4 linked regions of the Homo sapiens genome follow. The protein of the gene in region 4 interacts with the protein of the main gene of each other region in a biochemical or structural test. Each region holds a gene or a part of one and is shown on either strand. Other genes may lie near its edges.

What was found.
Region 1: of the proteins of PKN1 (region 4) and HDAC5, one has a biochemical effect on the other in vitro, tested with the Homo sapiens proteins (one study listed by BioGRID).
Region 2: the proteins of PKN1 (region 4) and NEUROD2 form a complex in vitro, tested with the Homo sapiens proteins (one study listed by BioGRID).
Region 3: of the proteins of PKN1 (region 4) and MBP, one has a biochemical effect on the other in vitro, tested with the Homo sapiens proteins (one study listed by BioGRID).

Annotation. Positions count from the first base shown.
Region 1 is NC_000017.11:44,078,601-44,082,488, reverse strand, and holds part of HDAC5 (histone deacetylase 5), read left to right. Parts: intron 1-1,606; coding exon 1,607-1,726; intron 1,727-1,990; coding exon 1,991-2,088; intron 2,089-2,263; coding exon 2,264-2,382; intron 2,383-3,211; coding exon 3,212-3,345; intron 3,346-3,609; coding exon 3,610-3,694; intron 3,695-3,823; coding exon 3,824-3,888. UniProt on the Homo sapiens protein: Responsible for the deacetylation of lysine residues on the N-terminal part of the core histones (H2A, H2B, H3 and H4).
Region 2 is NC_000017.11:39,604,876-39,609,394, forward strand, and holds the start of NEUROD2 (neurogenic differentiation factor 2), read right to left. Parts: upstream 3,046-4,519; 5' UTR 2,853-3,045; intron 1,730-2,852; 5' UTR 1,725-1,729; coding exon 576-1,724; 3' UTR 1-575. UniProt on the Homo sapiens protein: Transcriptional regulator implicated in neuronal determination. Mediates calcium-dependent transcription activation by binding to E box-containing promoter.
Region 3 is NC_000018.10:77,126,166-77,130,053, reverse strand, and holds part of MBP (Golli-MBP), read left to right. Parts: exon of another isoform or gene 1-1,694; intron 1,695-2,405; exon of another isoform or gene 2,406-3,888. UniProt on the Homo sapiens protein: The classic group of MBP isoforms (isoform 4-isoform 14) are with PLP the most abundant protein components of the myelin membrane in the CNS. They have a role in both its formation and stabilization.
Region 4 is NC_000019.10:14,457,217-14,461,104, forward strand, and holds part of PKN1 (serine/threonine-protein kinase N1), read left to right. Parts: intron 1-814; coding exon 815-924; intron 925-1,015; coding exon 1,016-1,159; intron 1,160-3,888. UniProt on the Homo sapiens protein: PKC-related serine/threonine-protein kinase involved in various processes such as regulation of the intermediate filaments of the actin cytoskeleton, cell migration, tumor cell invasion and transcription regulation.

The sequences.
Region 1 (3,888 bases), on a different chromosome or scaffold from region 4:
CCCCAGTCGTCCTCATCCTCGGGTGCTGGGTGTGGGTGCAGAAGGAAGGGCGCTGGGGCTCCTGCCGGATGACTAACGTCACATTCCAACAGGGCTCCCTCCTCAACTATGAAAGACATTTAGCTCCTGTTCCATCTTGGCCCTCACGTTGCAGTTTCAAGCAACGAAGGGGATTTCCTACCTTGAACGGTAGTGACGCTGCCGCCATTGCTAGTAGCCGATATTTCCTCCCACCCCCTACAATTAGGAGCAGACTGTATACCAGGAACACAATGAGTACTTTATGGCCACCTCGAGTAGTAAGAACGAGGATGTCCATTTCTGTGAACAAAGGTGTTGTTGCGTGACTTACCCAAGGCCACTCAGCTGGGGATGTCGGCACTGGGTTTCAGACCAAGGCTTTTGGCCCCAGCACTCTGCTCTTGCTACCATGGGTGCTTCCCAAACCCTGCTCCTAATGGTGGAGGCAGAGGCACACACCACTCTCTGTGAGCTGGGGAAGTAGCCAGGACCAAGCCTCAGGAAGGACAAAATCTCTTGGAAGCCCAATTCTGGCTTAAAAATTCATGTAAATGTTGGATCCTCCTTCAGAATCTTACGTGCTTGTGGTTGGGCACAATGGCTCAAAGCCTGTAATCCCAGCATTTTGGGAGGCCAAGGTGGGTGAATCACTTGGGGTCAGGAGTTCGAGACCAGGATGGCCAACATGGTGAAACCCTGTCTCCACTGAAAATTCAAAAAAATTAGTTAGGTGTGGTGGCGGGAGCCTGTAATCCCACCTATTGGGGAGGCTGAGGCAGGAGAATTCCTTGAACCTGGGAAGTGGAGGTTGCAGTGAGTCAAGATCATGCCACTGCACTCCAGCCTCGATGACAGAGTGAGATTCTGTCTCAAAAAAAAAAAAAAAAGAAAGAAAAGAAAAAGGAAAACAAAAAAGGCCGGGTACAGTGACTCATGCCTGTAATCCCAGCACTTTGAGAGGCCGAGGTGGGTGGATCACCTGAGGTCAGGAGTTTGAGACCAGCCTGGCCAACATGGTGAAACCCCATCTCTACTAAAAATACAAAAAAAATTGGCCGGGCATAGTGGTGGGCGCCTGTAATCCCAGCTACTCGGGAGGCTGAGGCAGGAGAATCGCTTGAACCCGGGAGGTGGAGGTTGCAGTGAGCCCAGATCGTGCCACTGCACTCTAGCCTGGGCAACAAGAGTGAAACTTGGTCTCAAAAAAAAAAAAGAAAGAATCTCATCTGCCTGTTTTAAATTCCCTACTAGCCTTAATGTTTTCCCCAAAACTGTGAGGTGGAATGGGTTCTGTAGGGAGATATGCCACATTTATCCCATGGTTTTGAATATCACCTACACAGTGCCACCCCACAGAGGCTCAGACCTAGTTAGAGAAGTGTGGGGTGTGCAATACCATTGTGAACAGAATATGGATGCCCTGTGGCCAAGGGTGGAGTCCTGGGCTCAAGCGATCCTCCCAGCCCTCAGCCTCCCAAAATGCTAGGATTACAGGCATGAGCTACAGTGCTCAGCTGACAGGTGGAATTTGACCATTGGGTCAGAGCGCGGGCCATTTTCCCGATGCTTCTACCTCCCCTCATAGGACATTCACCATGGCAATGGCACCCAGCAGGCGTTCTACAATGACCCCTCTGTGCTCTACATCTCTCTGCATCGCTATGACAACGGGAACTTCTTTCCAGGCTCTGGGGCTCCTGAAGAGGTACAGCTCCTGGGCGTAAATGCAGACCCTCCTGGCCCCTCTGGGAGGTGGCACAATGGGACCTGGCGGGGAGCCACGGAGGCCCATGGTGGTGTTGGTACCTGGGGAGTCTGGGCTCCTAGTGGGAGGACCACACTGATCTGACTGCCCCTCCAGGCAGAGCAGAGGTCAGTGGAGTGAGATCTGGAGGCAGGGGTGAGGGCAGGGGCAATGTTTGGGACTCCCAGGTGGTGAGAATAGCCCTCTCCCCAACTCTGGTGCCAGGTTGGTGGAGGACCAGGCGTGGGGTACAATGTGAACGTGGCATGGACAGGAGGTGTGGACCCCCCCATTGGAGACGTGGAGTACCTTACAGCCTTCAGGTAGGGACTGAAAAGGGCCATGGTAGTCAGTGGGAGCCCCTCTGGGCCCTGCAGTGGGAGGGGCAGAAGGCACTCAGTTCAGTGTGGGTAGAGGGGGTTGTCTCTGGGAGGATAACAGTGGGGCGAGGCCTGGCCTGGTCATCTGCCGGGCTCAGCTTGAGCCATCCCTTTGCAGGACAGTGGTGATGCCCATTGCCCACGAGTTCTCACCTGATGTGGTCCTAGTCTCCGCCGGGTTTGATGCTGTTGAAGGACATCTGTCTCCTCTGGGTGGCTACTCTGTCACCGCCAGATGTAAGCCTGCTGGGGGATTGAGGGAGGAAGTGAAACAGTGAGGATATCGAGTCCAGTGAGGCATGGGGCAGGGAACAGACTGATATTGCAGCAGACGGGGAAAGCAGGGGGCAGGGCCTAGACTTGGAATCATCTTGGTAACTCCCCCAACTTGTCCTCTGCCAACCCCGGCCTTGAGGGGATAGGAGGTGGCAGTGGGGTAGCAGAGGATAGAGGATGTATCCTGCCGGAGCTGTAGAGATGGGCTTGTTGGTCCCTGGTGTTTCAGTGATGCTCCTTGTCATTGGATTGGAGTCTTCAGCCAGTCTGTTAATGTTTTGACTGTGATAGGGCATTTAGTTCACTGATGCTGTATTTTATTATGGATATATTTGGGTTTATATCTCCCATCACATTTTGTGCTATTTGTCCCACCTCTTGTGTTTCTTTTTCTCTCCTTTTCTTTCTTTTTTTTTTTTTTTTTTTTTGAGGTGGAGTCTCACTCTGTCACCCAGGCTGGAGTGCAATGGCGTGATCTCGGCTCACTGCAACCTCCGCCTCCTGGGTTCATGCCATCCTCCTGCCTCAGCCTCCCAAGTAGCTGGGATTACAGGCGCGTGCCACCATGGCCGGCTAATTATTGTATTTTTAGTAGAGACGGGGTTTCACCATGTTGGTCAGGCTGGTCTCGAACTCCTGACCTTGTGATCTGCCCGCCTTGGCCTCCCAAAGTGCTGGGATTACAGGCGTGAGCCACCGCGCCTGGCCTTTTTTCTCTCCTCTTACTGGCTCTTGAATTGATTGATTACCTTTCGCCATTTCTTCTTCCTCCCTTCACCCATCCTCAAAGGTTTTGGCCACTTGACCAGGCAGCTGATGACCCTGGCAGGGGGCCGGGTGGTGCTGGCCCTGGAGGGAGGCCATGACTTGACCGCCATCTGTGATGCCTCTGAGGCTTGTGTCTCGGCTCTGCTCAGTGTAGAGGTAAGGGGTGGGAAGGAGCTGGGAGGTGGCAGGCCAGAGGTCTGAGGGGCCAGCAAGGGGTCAGCCAGCACTGGGAGCCCCTTAGGAAGCTTTTCCTTGGTCCTAAGGAACAGCTAATGGCCAGGCTTTCTGAGTATGCGTTTGTCCAAAAAGGCCATGTTTGCCCCTGTTGTGAGGGATATCTGGGGCTGAGTGGGGCAGTTAGAGGGGTATGCATGGCAACCCTACTCCCCACCCTAAGCCTTCTCTTCTTTCCCCTGCCAGCTGCAGCCCTTGGATGAGGCAGTCTTGCAGCAAAAGCCCAACATCAACGCAGTGGCCACGCTAGAGAAAGTCATCGAGATCCAGAGTGCGTGAGGACACGTAGAGGGGCTCAGGCTGCCAAGGGGGCACGGAGCTTGTGGGAGCACCAGGACTGGGACTGTTCATGTGGGTGTCCTCTGCCCTCCCTGACCCCTTGCCTGTCTCTCGTCCACAGGCAAACACTGGAGCTGTGTGCAGAAGTTCGCCGCTGGTCTGGGCCGGTCCCTGCGAGAGGCCCAA
Region 2 (4,519 bases), on a different chromosome or scaffold from region 4:
AATCCACTTCCCCTCCCGCCAAAATTAAAATCGCAAAACGCGGAGACTGGAGGTTGGGGGTGAGGGCGTTCCAGGCCCGGGCTCCGGCGCCCTAACTTCTACCCTCTTCAAGAAAGAGGGAGCGCCTGGCTCCTTTTTGCCTCGGCAGCTGGGTGTCTGTTTTTAAAATAATAATGAGAGGGGGAAACGCGTTCCATTGCTCAGCTGCCCCCTTACCAACGCCTTGGGCCTGCAGGGAGGAGGGGGAGGAGGAAACCTCAGCGAAGATATTGGGAATGGGGGAGGGGTGCCTCCAGGGAGCCCCCGGAGAGAGGTCCCTGGAGAAGCACTCCTTGGGAGAGAGGAGGAGGGAACCCCTTGGGGAGAGAGAAGGCGAGTCCCCTGGGGGAAGCGAGGCCCCTGGGACAGGCCACCCACAGGTAACAGGACTGCGCTGCCCCAGGAGAGCGGCAGGACCGGTGGCCCGCTCCCCGCGCCCGGCGCCGGGGTAGGATGGGGGTGTCCCTGCGCTCTGGGGGCTGGGGACAGGGGGGCGGGCAAAGGCAAAAGAAAAAGAAGGGAGCCGGCGCGAAGTCTCAGTTATGAAAAAACGCATTGAGCTCCTCGTACATGGGGCCCCGGTCGTGGTGAAGGTGCATATCGTAAGACAAGAGATTCTCCGAGTGGACGCCCCCGCGCACAGCCGACGAGCCGAAGACTAGCCCGTGGCCCGTGGGCCGCGAACCGGGCAGCGCCGAGTAGTGCATAGAGTAGTGGTAGCTTTTCTCGTGGTCGGGCGAGGAGTCCTGCTTGAGTGAGAAGTTGCCATTGAGACAGAGCGGGGGGCTGAGCGGGCCCTCGTACTCGGAGCTGTTGTAGTCCGGGCTCGCGCCGCCACCGCCTGCCGCCGCATACAGCGTCTCGTAGGCGGCGCAGTAGCCGTGGGTCCGCAGGGCGTGCGCCGCGCCGCCGCCCAGGCCGCCGGCCGCCTGGCACTGTGCGCCCGCCAGGCGCGAGCACGGGTACGGGTAGGGGTGCATGGCGAACGGGCCGCCCGAGCCGTGGAAGCGGCCGGCACCGTCGGCGCCTTGCTCCGTGAGGAAGTTGCGAGAGTTGAGCTGCAGACAGCCGGCCACCAGATTGGTGGTGGGCTGCGACAGACCCTTGCACAGAGTCTGCACGTAGGACACTAGGTCTGGCCGCTTGCCGGAGCGCAGGATCTCCGAGAGCGCCCAGATATAGTTCTTGGCTAGGCGCAGCGTCTCGATCTTGGACAGCTTCTGCGTCTTGGAGTAGCAGGGCACCACCTTGCGCAGGTTGTCCAGGGCTGCGTTCAGGTCGTGCATGCGGTTGCGCTCCCGCGCGTTCGCCTTCTGCCGCCGAAGCTTGGAGCGCTCCAAGCGCGCCTTGGTCATCTTGCGCTTCTTGGGCCCGCGCTTCTTGGGCCGCTCGCCCTCCGCCTCGTCCAGTCCTTCTTCCTCCTCCTCTTCCTCCTCCTCCTCTCCCCCCAGCTCGCCTTCCTCCTTGACCTCGGCCAACGTGGCCTCCGTCCCCTCTTCTCCACGGAGAGGGACTGGCTTGGCCGCCCGGGCTGGCCCCGGAGCCCCTGGCCCGGGCGCAGGCGGTGGCGGTGGCGGCGCGTCGCCCTTGTCGCTCCTCGGCTCGTCGTCTTCGCCGTCGCCCCAGCTGGCGAACTTGGGCACGTCCGAGAGAAGGCCGGGCTCGCTGAACAGGCGGGTCAGCATGGTGCCTGAGGGCGCCCCGCGGGCGGGAAGGGGAGACAGACAGCACAAAGTGAGGGGCGCGCTGGGGTACCGACGCCCCCCCACAACCCTCCTCCACCCCCGAGTCTCGTGCGGGCTCCTGCCTAGGCTACCCTGGATGCCCACCTCCGCCGCCTGCCCCGCCCAGAGCCGGCCCAGCCCTACCCGGCTGCCGGCCTGGGATCTCGGCCCAGGCCCTCTCCCCGGCGCTGGGCCCCGGCTCCGCCCCTCGCTTGAATGGGGGGCTGCTCCCCGCGCCTGCTTCTTCTCAGGGTCAGGGCAGGGACCGGGTGGGGGTTTTAGGGACCAGATATCTTTGCCAGGGGAGGCGGCGCGCTCGCCCTGAAAGCCCGTTCTCTCCTGGCGGTGGAGAGAGGCTGGTCGGCCGCCGGTGGGGACAGCTGCCCCGCTCCGCGCTCTCGCGGCCCGGGCCCCCCGGCCCAGCTCCCTCACCCCTCCCGTGGCTCTCACCCCCACGCTCCCTAATCCAATTTGCAACTTGGCTGCGCGCCGCCCCTTGCTCGGCCCCCACCCCCGCACCCCCAATTCCAGAGGCGGGAGGATCGTCTCCTCTAGCCGATGCGTCCCCAGCTCCCGGAGCCGGCTCTGGGCGGCGAGGACTGAAGCAGCGGGGCGTGGGGAGGAGACTGAGAGAAGCGAGCCCAGTCCGTCCCCTCTGCGGTCAGGGACCCCCTTCCCCCTTCAAGCTGACTCCCTCCCACAAGGCTCTTCAGATCTCGTTGTATTTTGGGATTGATGGGGGAAAAATCCAAATTTGTTTGTTTGCTTCCCTTTTTTCGGTGGTGGGGAAAGGTGGCAGGCTTTTTGGGACAACCATGGAGGGGTCCTCCGTCTCGGCCTCTTCGCATATCCCCCTCCGTGATCCTGCCTTCCCCCCCCACCGAGCCCATCGCAGGCAGAGACACCTCCTCTGCAGCCCCCTGGGCTGCAGCCCCTAAGGGAGAGAGAACCTGGGGCCCCTCCGATGCCCACCCAATGAGGGGGGCATCATCCCAGGAAGGAGGTATTTGAGGACCCTCCTGTCGGCCGAAGCTGCCGCCCCTCCTCCCAACCGGCGGGTCAGATCTCGCTCCCTTTCGGACAACTTACCTCGGAGAGGAGTCAAGGGGAGAGGGGAGGGGAGGGGGGGAGGGGGCAAGAGAGAGAGGGGGGAGAAGAGGGATCTTCTCGCTTATTTCATTGTTCCCCCATCTTCAGGGAGCGGGGGCAGCGGCTCCTCAAGGCGGCGGGCGCCGGCGTCTTCAGAGCGCCATGCGAACCGCGGAGCGAGTGTGGCATCTCTACCAGGCGGGGTACCAGCCTCTATGCCAGGCCATATGGGCTTGGCACGTCACGGGCAGCAGCTATCACATGAGAGACGGTGATTGGCATGCGTCTGCACTGGGGGAGAGCCGGCTCCCCCGGGACCCGCCGCCATCTGTCACTCTCTACTCCAAAAAAAAAAAAAAAAATTAAATAAATAAAGGAAATAAATAAATATTTCTGCCGCCCTCCCCTCCCCGCCCAACGCAGGGAAAGCAGGGATTGAGAGGAAGGTGGGAGGAGTTGCCCCCTGTATATAGAGACCCCCTCACGGGAACAATGGGGTGGCAAGGCTGGACACTGGGGGCTCGTGGTGGCCAATTCTATGCTCCCTCAGGGTCCCGCTCTGTCCATTTCCTCCCCTGCAGGCCCCCAAGGTGGGTCAGGGACCAGACCCCGGGTTGGGGAGAAAGGACCTCTGTGCTTGCCCCCACTCCCCAGGAGGGTCCCCTTGGCCACAAAGGGACAGCTGAGACCCCCTCCCAGGATGGCTGTAAGGGGCGTCCCTGGCCCGAGCCCCATAGGTAGATGTTGGCACCATGCCATCCCTCATCCCTGTCTGCCCCTCCCCCACCCACCCTCACGCACACACAACATATGTGGCTAAACGAAATTCAAACCAAGGGAAAGACAGAGAAAGGGAAAGATGTGCCTGGATGTCTGTGCCTCTGCATGGGCGTGTGTGTGTCTGTGGGGACATGTGTGTATCTGTGGAGTCAGCCGATGGGAGATCTTTCCTTGGTTGTTGGGGGCGTATCCATGTTAGGGTGGAGTGGGGAGGGGCCGCGAGATGAGCCTGTGCACCACCCATCTGGGGGTGGAGGGGAGGGTCTAAGTCTGGATTCCTAACCTAGAAACCTCTCACTCTCCTCCTCCCACTGCCAGACAGGTGACCAGTCCACCAGCGGCTTTCTCTCCTGGTCTTCAGACTTGGTTATTTGAGGGAGGAGGAGCAGGCAGTGCTGAGAACTGCCTAAGTTCCTGGATGAGACTCAAGCATTCTCCTCCCCTTCTGAAAAATCTGAAAATACTGAAGCCAACCCCAGTAATCCCAAGAGTGGCCAAGGGGAGGTAGGTCAGACAGCTGTCTTGATAAGGGAGGTAGGAAGTTGCTGTTTTATCTTGTGGCTCACCTTTCAACACTCTCATTGGGCCAGACACAGATACAAATGGCACAGGTTGAAGAGGTGGCTTTGGACACACACACACACACTCATGCACACACACATACACACACACACGGATGCATACACATGCACACATATACCTGTTCCTCACCCTGTGGTGTAGAAAAATAGATAACATACCCCTACTCAGATAGACACATGTATGTGAGCAGGTAATCACAGCCTGGTGTAGACAGACCCTTGCCCACACCCCATTTGGAGCATTTGTATGTTTTAGACCCACATTTCTGCCCCTCCAGACACTCTAGCTGACATATATACACAACT
Region 3 (3,888 bases), on a different chromosome or scaffold from region 4:
TTTTTTTGACAGAGTCTTGCTCTGTCACCCAGGCTGGAGTGCAGTGGTGCAATCTCGGCTCACTGCAACCTCCACCTTCTGGATCCAAAACAGTCTCCTGCCTCAGCCTCCCCAGTAGCTGGGACTATAGGGGCGCACCACCACACCTGGCTGATTTTTGCGTTTTTTTGTTTGTTTTTGTTTTTTAGTAAAGATGGGGCCTCACCATGTTGGCCAGGCTGGTCTCAAACTCCTGACCTCAAGTGATCCACCCACCTCGGCCTCCCAAAGTGCTGGGATTACAGGCATGAGCCACCGCGCCTGGCCTCTAATTACTCTTGGGATAATTTTAAATAAGTGGCCATTAAGTAGTAAGACACTTCTGTTGGCCCATTGGAACCCGTGAAGGAAGCTCTGGAGCTGTTTAAGGGAAGAGTGCTCATGCCACAGGCCCTAATGCCAGCTGAGCAGAAATGCCAGGCGAGTAGCTGGAATAGTCTCTACAGGAGATTTTAAATCTCTGTCAAAACCTGTAGTGGACAGGCTTCATCCAGAGAAACAGAAGCAGGTGGAGATACACATTAGAGACTCATGGCAAGGAATGGCTTATGCAGAGGTGGGCTGGCCAGGTTTGTGGGACGTCTGTAGGACAGGCCAGCCAGAAGGCAGCTGATCTCCCCGGCCGACTGAAGCTGCCTTCCACAGCAACATCTCCCACATGCCAGCAACAACCACGAGTGCATGTTCCAAAGCTATTAGTAATGTCTCACACTCAATAGCCATTAAAGCGTAAAAATGTCATTCCGAATGTTCTTTTGTTCTGGACTCTGTGAATAGCACTGCGTTGGTCTGAGTCACCATTGTGAAAAATAGGTGGATATCTAAAAGATGAGGAGAAACAGACCTATGTGAGGCCAGGATCTAGAATACAGAAACAGTTCTAAAATGTGGTAATTTGAAACAAGCCACTCAAGAGTAAAATATGAGACTAATGAGAAAACCCAGATGGACTGATAAAATAAGAAAAGGACTTTAACCCTCTGGGAATCAGGGAATTCAAAACTAAGATGGCAAAAAGATTTTTTTTTACCTTTACGGTACTGGAAAAAAATTTAAATTGTGACTATACCAAATATTAGAGAAGGTGTAGAAAACTTAGACCTCACATGAGTTCGACTAGAATGTAAATAGGAACAAAGATGTTAGAGAATAATCTAGAAAAAGTGAAGGTGGGTGTATCCTAAGATCTAACAATTCCACTTCTAGGTATCTCCTCTAGGGAAAACCTGGTCTGTGTGCATAAGACACACACAGTGGATATTCACTGAAGCAATGTAGTAAAACCCTGTTTTGAGATCATGTAGATTCACATGCAATTCCCTTCACCAGTTTCTCCCAACAATAACATCTTACAAAACCATAGTACAATGCCACAACTAGAAAATGAGCATTGATACAACCCATTAACTTTGTTCAGATTTCAGATTCCACCAGTTTACATGTACTCATTTTATAGACTGCTCTGTGTGTGTGTGTGTGTGTGTGTGTGTGTGGTATGCACGTGCGCTTAGTTCTCTGTAATTTTATCACCCATGTAGAACCATGTGACCACCAACACATCAGAGGACAGGAGAGTTTCATCACAGGATCCTTGATGCTACTCTTTATAGCCAAGCTGACTTCCTCCTTCCCCCTCCCTGAGGCTGGCAACCACAGTATGGTTCCTATTTTCTATAATTTTGTCGCTTTAAGAATGCTCTATAAATGGAATCATACACTATGCAACCTTTCGAGACTGGCTTTTTCCGCTAAACGCAATTCCCTTGAGACCCATCCGGGTTGGCAAGCATGTCCATAGGTGTTTCTTTTTAATTACTTAGTGGTGTTCCGTCATCTGGATGAACCAAGGTGTGTTCAACCGTTCACCCAGGAAGGGCACTTGGATTATTTCCAGGTTTTGGTTATTGCAAATAGAGCTGCTGTGAACATTCTTGTACAGGTTTTTGTGTGAACATAGTTTTCATTTCTCTGGGATAAATGCCCAGGAGTGCAATTGCTGAGTCATATGGTTAGCACATGTCTAATTTTATGAGAAACTGCTAACTCTTTTCCAGAATGGCTACACCATTTTGCATTCCCACCGGCGGTGTGTGAGTGATTCAGGACCTTCCCAGCCTGGGCAGCATTTGGTATTGCCACTATTTTTTTTTTTTATTATTTTAGCTCTTCTAATAAGTGTGTAGTGATATCTCCTGATGGTTTAATTTGCATTGTCCTGATGGCTAATGACATCAAGACCTTTTTATGTACTTATGGCCATCTGTGTATCCTCCTCAGTGAAAAGTCTGTTCATGTCTTTTGCCTACTTTTTAATTGGATTGTTTGGTTTTAACAACTGAGTTTTCCTAATTCTTTATATTTTCTAGATGCTGGCCTTACCACTCGGTGATTATTTTCTACCACTTTATCTTGTTTTTTCACCCTCTTCACAGAGTCCTTTGCAGAAAGTTTTACATTTTGTTGAATTCAAGTTTATTAATTTTACCTTTTTTGGATTTTGATTTTTGGTGTGAAGTCTAAGTCTTCACCTAGCCTGAGGTTCCCGAAGATTTTCTCCTTTTTTCCCTACAAATTTTATAGTTTCACATTTTATACTTAAGCCTATTTTCCATTTTGAGTTAATTTTTGTATGAGGTGTGAGGTTTAGGTTGAGGCTTATTTGTTTTGGTTTGGTTTGGGTTTTGCCAACGAATGTCCAATAGCTCCGGGACTATTAGTTGAAAAGGTGATCCTTCTTCCATTAAATTGCTTTTGCACCTTTGCTAAAAACCGTTTCCACTTATTGCTGTGGGTCTATTTCTGGGTTCTCTATTCTGTTCCATTAGTCTATATGTCAGTCTCTCTGCCAAGAGCACACTGTCTTGATTACTGTAGTTGCATAGTCAACTTTAATCAGGTGGAGTGACTTCCTTCCACTTTATTATTCTTTATAAAACTTATGTTAGCTATTGTAGGTTCTGGGCCTTTCCATATGAATTTTAGAATAGCGCGTTTATGGGTGCAAAAACCTTGCTGGGATTTTGATAGGAATTTCTTCAAATGTATAGATTAGGGAGAATTAATAGTTCTACTGTGTTGAGTTTTCCAATCCATGATCACAGGTTGTCTCTCTATGGGTAATTAGGTCTTCTTTAACTTCTTTCATCAATGTTTTATAAATTTCAGTGCACAGATTCTGAATCTGAAATTTCTTTACAGTGTACATAAGTGTTTTATTTTCTTTGGGGCATTTCTAAATGGCATTGTGTCTTAACTTCAGTTTCCACGTTTATTGTGGAGTAGGTAGAACTGTGAGTAATTTTTATGTGTCAGTCCACATTCTGCAACCTACTGAGCTGCCTTATTAGATCTAGGAGGATTTTTTTTGGTAGATTTCTTGGGATTGTCTATGTAGATCATCATGTTATCTGCAAATTGGATAGTTTTATTTCTTCTTTCCAATTTATATACTTTTTATTTCTTTTTCTTATCTTACCGTACTGGTTAGAATGTCCAGTGCTATATTCAATAAGAGTTGCAAGAACTTGCCTTATTCTGACCTAAAGGGCAAAGCACTGAGTTTTTACCACCAATTATGATGTAGCTATAGGATTTTTATGGATGTTCTTTATCAAGTCAATAGTCCATGTCTATTCATGAATGTGTGTTGTATTTTGTCAAATGTCTTTTCTGGGACAATTTATATGTTCATGAGATTTTTCTTCTTTGACTTCATGGTATGATGGATAGTTGATTGACTGACTCTCTAATGCTGACCCACCCTTGAGTATCTGATATATATTCCACTTAGCCATGTATATAACTTTTTTATGTGTTGCTAGATTCACTTTACTAATATTTTGTTGAGGA
Region 4 (3,888 bases):
GAGGCTGAGGCAGGAGAATATCACTTGAGGCCAGGAGTTTGAGACCAGCCTGGGCAACATAACAAGACTCATCTCTACTGAAAAAAAAAAAAAAAAAGAAAAAGATAATAGACATGCCCCTTTCTGCCAGGATTTTCTTTCTTTTTCTTTTTTTTTTTTCTTTTTTTTTTTTTTTGAGATGGAGCTTCACTCTTGTTGCCCAGGCTGGAGTGCAGTGGCGTGATCTCGGCTCACTGCAACCTCTGCCTCCTGGGTTCAAGGGATTCTCCTGCCTCAGCCTCCCGAGTAACTGGGATTACAGGCATGTGCAACCACGCCTGGGTAATTTTTTATTTTTAGTAGACATGGGGTTTCACCATGTTGGTCAGGCTGGTCTCAAACTTCTGACCTCAGGTGATCCACCTGCCTCAGCCTCCGAAAGTGTTGAGATTACAGGCATGAGCCACTGTGCCTGGCCGTTTTTATTTTCTCTTCTCTTCTCTTCTCTCTTTTCGACCGAGTCTTGCTGTGTCACGCAGGCTGGAGCGCAGTAGCACGATCTTGGCTCACTACAACCTCTGCCTCCTGGGTTCAAGTGATTCTCCTTCCTCAGCCTCCCGAGTAGCTGGCATTACAGGCGCGTGCCACCACGCCCAGCTAATTTTTTGTATTTTTAGTAGAGACGGGGTTTCGCTATGATGGCCAGGCTGGTCTTGAACTCCTGGCCTCAAGTGATCGCCTGCCTCAACCTCCTAAAGTGCCGGGATTACAGGCATGAGCAACCTTGTCTGGCTACTGCCAGCATTTTCTGACTGGGCCCTCTCTCCCATTTCAGGTGAAGTCAGCACTGTGCTTAAGCTGGATAACACAGTGGTGGGGCAGACGTCTTGGAAGCCATGTGGCCCCAATGCCTGGGACCAGAGCTTCACTCTGGAGCTGGAAAGGGTGAGCTGCGTTGGAGGACAGCAGGGCCTAGAGGAGGAGGGGTTCCATGCCTCTGGCACCCTGAGTGATGGCCCTCTTCCTCTCCCTCCAGGCACGGGAACTGGAGTTGGCTGTGTTCTGGCGGGACCAGCGGGGCCTGTGTGCCCTCAAATTCCTGAAGTTGGAGGATTTCTTGGACAATGAGAGGCATGAGGTGCAGCTGGACATGGAACCCCAGGGCTGCCTGGTGGCTGAGGTATAGCCCACACCTGACCCTGAGAAAATGCTTCTTCTCCCTCACTGCCCCATTCCCAGTTTCCTAGAAGGGGAAAATATGTTTTAGGTCTGGCTCTTCCAGAAGGGGAAGATAAGTTTTAAGTCAGGCTTTTCTAGAAGAGGAAAATAGATTTTAGATCCAGCTCTTCTAGAAACGGAAGATATGTTTTAACTCTGCCTTTTCTAGAAGGAGAAGATACGTTTTAGGTCAGGCTCTTCCAGAAGGGGAAGAGACGTTTTAGGTCTGCTTTTTTCTAGAAGGGAAAGATATGTTTTAGATCAGGCTCTTCTAGAAAGGGAAGATAGGCTTTTGATCTGCCTGTTCTAGGCTGGGCGTGGTGGCTCATGCCTGTAATCCCAGCACTTCGGAAGGCTGAGGCAGGAGGATCACCTGAGGTCAGGGAGACCAGCCTGGGCAACATGGTAAAACCGCGTCTCAACTAAAAGTACAAAATTAGCTGGGCGTCGTGGCACATGCCTTTAGTCCCAGCTACTTGGGAGGCTGAGACAGGAGAATCGCTTGAACCCAGGAGGCGGAGGCTGCAGTGAGCTGAGATCCCACCACTGCACTCCAGCCTGGGCGACAGAGTGAGACTCTGTCGCCCAGGAGTCTCACAAAAAAAAAAAAGATCTGCTTGTTCTAGAAGGGGAAGATACATTTTAGATCAGGCTCTTTTAGAAGCATAAGATATGTTTTAGATATGGTTTCTCTTAATACAGAAAGATAGTTTTAGATCAGGCTCTTTCAGAAGTGGCAGGTATGTTTTAGACCCGTGTATTCTAGAAGGGGAAGATACATTTTAGATCTGTCTCTGAACCTTGATAGAAAAGTACACCTTGGCCAGGTGTGGTGGCTCACGCCTGTAATCCCAGCACTTTGGGAGGCTGAGGCAGGTGGATCACTTGAGGCCAGGAGTTCCAGACTAGCCTGGCCAACATGGTGAAACCCCATCTCTATTAAAAATACAAAAATTAGCTGGGCATGATAGTGGGTACCTGTAATCCCAGCTACTTGGGAGGCTGAGGCAGGAGAATTGCTTGAACCCAGGAGACAGAGGTTGCAGTGAGCTGAGATCACGCCATTGCACTCCAGCCTGGGCAACAGAGTGAGACTCTTGTCTCAAAAAAAAAAAAAAAAGAAGAAGAAGAAGAAGAAAAGCACTTCTAATTAGCCACATCAGTGATAGGACCTTAGCTGGGATTGGTTTTGTTCTGAGGCAAGATACTTAAAAAAAAAAAAAAAGAAGAAGAAGAAGCTGATTTCCAAATTTAGAAATGTTTAAAGAAAAAAGGAAATAAATTATAAAATTTCTTCCAACCAGGAAAGAGATACAAAACCTGGCAACATATCGTGGTGATTGCTACCAGAGCCACAGTCAAGAGAAAGTGATTCCTTCCACAGCTGTGTGAGGGTGAAGGTCTGAATTGAGGTGGCCTACCCTTGGCACTGTTGACATCTGGGGCCACATCATCCTCTGTGGTGGGGCTGTCCTGCATACTAGAGGATGTAGCACCTCTCCCCACTGCTTACAGGATGTCAGTAGCACCACCTCCCCCTGAGTTTTGACAGCCCAGAGGTCTCCAGACACTGTCAAGTGCTCCCTGGCCGGGAACCCCTGGTCTAAATGACATTTCTAGCTGAGTTCTCATAGTATAAGCCAGGCTCTGTAGCGAGTACTTTGGCGACGTGAACTCATTAATTCTCACAACCAACCAACAAAAGAGGGACTGTTATTACTCAAATTTGACAGAGGAGGAAACTGGGGCACAGAGAAGGGGCACTTGACCCCTCATTTAGCCAAATTATCCTAAAAAACTCTTTTAATCTTCCGCTAACCTATATGTGTACCCCATTTTACATATATATATGATAGATTACCTATATATGTATACACACACATATTATCTATTATTTACCCACCTACGTGTCCATCCATCCATTTTGTCTGTCTATGCATTCATCCATCCATCTTTTTTTTTTTTTTTTTTTTTTGAGATGGAGTCTCGCTGTCTCCCAGGCTGGAGTGCAGTGGTGCGATCTTGGCTCACTGCAACCTCTGCTTCCCGGGTTCATGCCATTCTCCTGCCTCAGCCTCCCGAGTAGCTGGGACTACAGGCACCCGCTACCACGCCCGGATAATTTTTTGTATTTTTAGTAGAGACGGGGTTTCACCCACCGTGTTAGCCAGGATGGTCTCCATCTCCTGACCTCGTGATCTGCCCGCCTTGGCCTCCCAAAGTGCTGGGATTACCGGCGTGAGCCACCGCGCCCGGCCCAGCCATCTTATCAATGCATCCTCTATCCATTGATAGATACACCTATATTATCTGTCTTATCTATGTATCCATCTATATTAGGTATCTATATCATCTATTTATCTAATCCATCTATCCATTTATCTATCTCTATCTATATATTATCTATCAACCAATCTATTTTTCCATGCATCCGTCTCTATTATCTGTCAGTCATCTTATCCATCAATCTTATGTATGCATCATCCATCCATCTATCCATCCCTGTATATTTCTCTGTATATATATCTACCCATTCCTCTCTCTATCTCTATCTATCCCTCTCTATATCTATCTGTGCCTCTGTTTTTCTCTATATAGCTATATCTATCTATCCATCCATCTATATTATCTATCAACTAATCTATCTTTCCGTCTACCCATCTGTCTATATTATCTATCCATCTATATTAT